2 separate regions of the Homo sapiens genome follow, and region 1 is linked to region 2. The links come from fine-mapping of genetic effects on gene expression. A gene starts in region 2. The other region holds a variant in brackets. All regions are shown on one strand. Distances are from middle to middle.

Region 1 (2,919 bases), 100 kb before region 2:
TTTTAGATGGAGTTTCACTGTTGTTGCCCAGGTTGGGGTGCAGTGGCACGATCTTGGCTCACTACAACTTCCACCTCCTGGGTTCAAGTGATTCTCCTGTCTCAGCCTCCTAAATAGCTGGGATTAAAGGCACCTGCCACCCCACCCAGCTAATTTTTTATATTTTTAGTAGAGATGGGGTTCCATCATGTTTGCCAGACTGATCTCAAACTGCTGACCTCAGGTGATCCACCTGCCTCAGCCTCCCAAAGTGTAGGAATTACAGGCCTGAGCCACCATGCTCGGCCTTCCACCTGTTTCTTGCATTAACATTTAATGAGGGGTATTTTTCTCTGAATACCCAGCCTATCTCTCCCACTGTCTTGAAATACGAAGGGTATTGTTTTTCTAGTTTGTCAATGATTTGCATAATTAATGTTTAATTGCTTTATTTTAGACAAAGAGACAAAAAAGGAGAATAATGAGAATTAGACTAAAGTTTATGTTTATTGAAAAATTTCTTTGACCACTTAGAGAGTTAACTGTTTTCATAGGATTGTGATTAAACACAGGGTGACAGTCAAAGTCACTATAGGGAAAAACTCTCCCACTGGAGGTCTGATTTGATAGTAAAGACAGCTTCTTATTACTGACTGCAAGGTACTCCCCTCATTATTGTTCTCTAGTTCTCTATTTCTATTTAAGAGGTCGACCCTTTTTCCTGGAGCCAATGTATTCACTGTTTGAGAAATTCCATGGTATCCCTTTGTAGGGGTGAAAGATTCCTTTTCCTCACTCATTGCTAGGTTCACGGCATCTACAATAAAACATAGATCAACAAGAGAATAGCATCCAAATTTATTTAATAGAAGTTACCTGAACAAACAGGCCTTGTTAAGTTCTACTCAGCTTATTACCATTAGATTATACCCTTTTGTTCTCCAGTCATACTTCTGCATAACTGTCCGTAGAAATACTCAGTTTTCCCTGCGTCTTCATTTCAGAAGGCTCTCTTGTCGTATAACATTTACATGCTTTTGTTTTGTTAATCTGTCTTTTGTTATAGGGGTCTCAGTCACGAACCTGGTGATGGGCAAGGAAAAGATACTACTTTTTCTCCCCTACGTTGGACAAGGAGGGTATGATCTAATGCTAATAAACTGGAGGGAGCTTAGCAAGACTAATTTGTTCAGATTCTTCTTGGCATCTCTGTATCTTCAAAGATAAGGAAGTTTCTTTCCTCTAGGAAACAATACTTCTAAAATAAGGGTCTTATGATCTGCTTCAGGGCAGAAAGACGGGGAAAGGTGTGAGAGTGAATTTCCTGATTCTGCTGTTTTCTCAAATGCCAAGAATCCATATTTTGGGGTTGCATGTCCTGAACCTCATACGCTGCTTTCCAAGCACTGCATTATAGGACTGAAACACTGATGAATGTTGAGATTAAGATCCACATTACCACTTTGCAACATGTCTACAAAAACTTAGTAAAACTTTTGTGGCAGCTTAAGTAAGGCGGGAAGCTCATTTATGTACTCTCTTGAGCTCTCTTCCATTTTGATAGGTGTTAGACTGTCAGAACTGCAGAGCCCTCATCATATAACAACTCCTCCCAAATCTCTGCACTAGAGACTTGGCAAACTCTAGCA[C/T]GCCTTCTAGTAGCCTAAGGCAAGGTCCATAGGATGATTCAGCACTACTTAAAAGGCCAGCCTGAGGAAGCCCAATGCTGCTAGGAGAATTTACTTTTTGTTCCAGTTAAAACTTGTTAACAGGCCAGGTGTGGTGGCTCATGCGTGTAATCCCAGCACCTTGGGAGGCCGAGGCGGGCGGATCACGAGGTCAGGAGATCGAGACCATTCTGGTTAACACGATGAAACCCTGTCTCTACTAAAAATACAAAAAATTAGCCAGGCATGGTGGCGGGCGCCTGTAGTCCCAGCTACTTGGGAGGCTGAGGCAGGAGAATGGCGTGAACCCAGGAGGCAGAGCTTGCAGTGAGCCGAAATCGCGCCACTGCACTCCAGCGTGGGCAACAGAGCGAGACTCTGTCTCAAAACAACAACAACAACAAAAAACTTGGTAACAGATAGGCTCCTGAATTCCTTTTAGAGCAGTTACTTTAGAAATCTTACAGTTAGGCCAGGTGCAGTGGCTCACGCCTGTAATCCCAGCACTTTGGGAGGCCGAGGCAGGCGGATCACCAGAGGTCAGGGGTTCAAGACCAGCCTGACCAACATGGAGAAATGCTGTCTCTACTAAAAATACAAAATTAGCCTGGCGTGGTGGCACATGCCTGTAATCCCAGCTTACTCAGGAGGCTGAGGCAGGAGAATCGCTTGAACCCGGGAGGCGGAGGTTGTGGTGAGCCGAGATCGTGCCATTTGCACACCAGCCTGGGCAACAAGAGCGAAATTTCGTCTAAAAAAAAAAAAAGAAAGAAAAGAAAAATAAATCTTACAGTTAAATTCTTTCTCTGCCCTTTGAGAAGCAAATCTACCACACAGAACTGTTTCTTCAAGGACTTGGGAGCTGTTTCTTTGAAATGCAAACATTCAGGGAGATAAATCTTGCTCTTTCTTTCAGATGCAGCATAAGGACCAACTTAGCTGGGTGCTTCACTTCAACTATCACCATGTCCTTCTGTCATATAGATAGGCAAAGTTTCTCTGTCCTCTGGATAAGGGCCAATTAACAAATCCAGAGAGTCTAGTCACATTAACTTTCCTTAACACCACTCAGTATCTTTTCCTTAGCAAACTCCACTTTAAAATGTCATCAGCTTTACTTTTGGGGAAGTTGAGTTCAGTTAATGCTGCACTGGTTCCTGTTGCAATAGTATTACTGAATAAAACCTGTCCTCACCACATTAACTAGTATCCAGATTTGTTGATCCTTGACAACACTCAGATGTCTCCTGCACTCTACTGGCTTCAAGGTCGG
Region 2 (2,919 bases):
AAAAAAAAAAGAAATCCCTAAGGAGGTAGGTGGATGGATTTTAATATACAGATGGAGATTGAGCATAGATTATGTTACGGGATCTTTGGGATGTTGATTTTCTGTTCAGAAACCTGTGTGGCTGTGGCGTCTTTGCCCGAGTTCTTGTCCTGCGTCTATGGTTGCTAGATTGTATGTTAATATTATACTTAGCTCTGTAAGAAACTGCCACACTGCCTTCCAAAGTGGCTATGCCTTTTTACCTCTCACCAGCGGTGAATGAATGCTCCTGTTGCTCCACATCCTTGCCAGCATTGGATGTTGTGAGTATTTTGGATTTTAGTCATTCAAATAGTATACAGTGGTTTCTCATTGTTGTTTTAATTTGCAATTCCCTCCTAAGGTATGACATTGAGCATCTGCAACACTGAACTTAGCTCTCCAAACAAGGCTCAGCCTTGTCTGCATTCCTTTCCCTACCCTCACTTCCCCTTCTACTTGGAATGTTATTTGTAGCATTTGTTTGTCTCCTGTAACCCTGCCAATCCTTCCCAATCCTCAGAGCCTTCACTGACAGCATCGGGCGGCTCACTCGTTCCTGCTGCCATAGTAATTTGTGCGTAACTTTTCTTGAGATTTATCACATCCTGTTATTATATGCTGTTTCTTCTACCGACATTGGTTGCTACTCCCATTTCTCAACCTCCTGGCTTCAAGCAATCCTCCCACCTTGGCCTTCCAAAATGCTGGGATTACAGGTGTAACTAACTGCACCTGGTCTTGCTACTCCCGTTTCTAAATAAAATTTCAATCTGAGTAAAAACTAAAGCCAATTTCTTCCCAAAATGGTGGGGGGCACTGGACACAATATCGAAGACCATTAGCACAATCAGTAGCACCAGACAATGAGTCAGCAGAGTCACTAAAGCCTCAGGCCACGAGTTAGAAGACACTTCACAGATTAAAGGAAATCAACAGAGGAGTAAGAAATAACCAGGGATGGCCTCCTGGAGATTTCGTGTTTGACTCCCTTTCCCTCTCTATCTCTAAAGAGAAAGTGCAGAGGGCATTTTAGACTGAGGGATCAGTAGGAGCAAGAGTAAGGAAGCTACCTGATTTACAGAGGCTGTCTACTGCCTGCAGTATCAGGCCATTGAAATACACTTAACGTCTTTCCACCAGCGGCTCCAGCCTTCCCCTCCACTTGCATCTTCCCTCATCCATCTCTGCAGATGATACATACTCCCACATATCATTCATTATTTCTTAAATATATCAGCTCACACCTTCATATTATTTTACATTTCTTCAGAATCTTTCCTAACCTAGAATGCCCTTTCCCCTTTCTCCTTTAATCATGCCTTTCTTATAAAGTAGGTTCAGATGACCTTCTCTGTCAGCATCATCTGTAATGACATACCTTCCACCCTACTGCCAGTGGTTCTTACCTCTTCTGCAGAGAGTATCATCAGTTTGAATCATTTAGATCTTGGCTAACATGGGAATCTTTACCATTGTGTGGATCAAATACCCAGATCTTGATAAGAAAAATAAAAATGCTATTGTCACATAAATGGCTGGGTTTAATCATCTGTGGGCCTTAGAGTATGTTTTCTTCAGGACAAGGTAGGCCGTTGTGCTTCACAAGAGCTTGCGAGTTATTTGAGAAGAATCAAAACATGTTGCCAGTCTAGCAGAAAAGCATTTCAACTTCACCACAGATTGCCACAGCCGGGTACAAACGGAAGTCCCGCCCCCTTCCAGGTTGTTGGGGTGGGAGCTGCCGGATGAGCTGCTGCGGCCCTCGGGGCGCAGGACCACACCATCTGCGCAGCCTGCACCCTCGCGGCCCGGTAAACTTGACAGTTTCTTATAGAGGTAAGTATAGTATTAACAGACAATCTAGGAACCATAGAAAGTGGAAAACCTGTACACACTGCTGAGACCAGCTCGGTCTGGGAGACCCTAACCCAGAGGCGCTAGAGGAATTAAAGACACACACAGAAATATAGAGGTGTGAAGTGGGAAATGAGGGGTCTCACAGCCTTCACAGCCGAGAGCCCCGAACAGAGATTTACCCACGTATTTATTAGCAGCAAGCCAGTCATTAGCATGGTTTCTGTAGATATTAGGTTAACTGAAAGTATCCCTTATGGGAAACAAAGGGATGGGCCGAATTAAAGAAATAGGTTGGGCTAGTTAACTGCAGCGGGAACATGCCCTTAAGGCATAAATTGCTCATGCTATTGTTTGTGGCTTAAGAATGTCTTTAAGTGGTTTTCCACCCTGGGCGGGCCAGCTGCTCCTTGCCCTCATTCCCGTAAACCCACCACCTTCCAGCATGGGTGTTAGGGCCATCATGAACATGTCACAGTGCTGCAGAGATTTTGTTTATGGCCAGTTTTGGGGCCAGTTTATGGCCGGATTTTGGGGGGCTTGCTCCCAACACACACAAAAACTGGCACACACATTTTCACAGGAGCTTTATTCATAATTGCCAGACATTAGAAGTAATTATGATGTCTTTCAAAAGATGAGTGGATAAACAAACTGTGGTACATTCATGCAATGGAGTATCATTCGACAACAAAATGAAATGTTGTCAAACTATGAAAAACATGGAGGAATCTTAAATGCATATTACTACGTGAAAGAAGCCGGTTTGAAAAGCTATCATATTATCCTAGCTATATGACATTCGAGAAAAACCAAGACAAAGAAAACAAAGAGATCAGTTGTGACCAATGATTCAGGGGAAGAGGAAGATTGATAGGAAGGGGGAAGATTGCTGAGTAGGTAGGGCACAGGGGATTTTTGTCTGCAAAAATGTACACCCATGTACATAAGCAGGGCTCTGAATTTTTTAAACTTTTCAAATTTTGTGGCAGGGCCTATTGAATGGGTTGAGGGAGACCTTCCTGATTGATACCTACTAATGTA

What was found.
Region 1: its variant is fine-mapped to the expression of CLEC9A in whole blood (INTERVAL, PIP 0.96).

What each region holds. Positions count from the first base shown.
Region 1 is chr12:10,131,163-10,134,081 of GRCh38, reverse strand. It overlaps LOC105369655 (a long non-coding RNA gene), which reads right to left. Exons shown (of 4, transcript XR_007063208.1): 2 at 2,842-2,919; 3 at 2,290-2,397; 4 at 468-796. Among named protein-coding and RNA genes, the nearest start is that of CLEC7A, 2.4 kb to the right of the region's middle. RefSeq lists an enhancer at 1-344. The variant C/T (reference allele first, on the strand shown) is at 1,629.
Region 2 is chr12:10,029,481-10,032,399 of GRCh38, reverse strand. CLEC9A (C-type lectin domain containing 9A) reads right to left here and starts at 1,718. Exons shown (of 9, transcript NM_207345.4): 1 at 1,428-1,718. LOC102724020 (a long non-coding RNA gene) reads left to right here and starts at 1,777. Exons shown (of 4, transcript NR_169587.1): 1 at 1,777-1,857.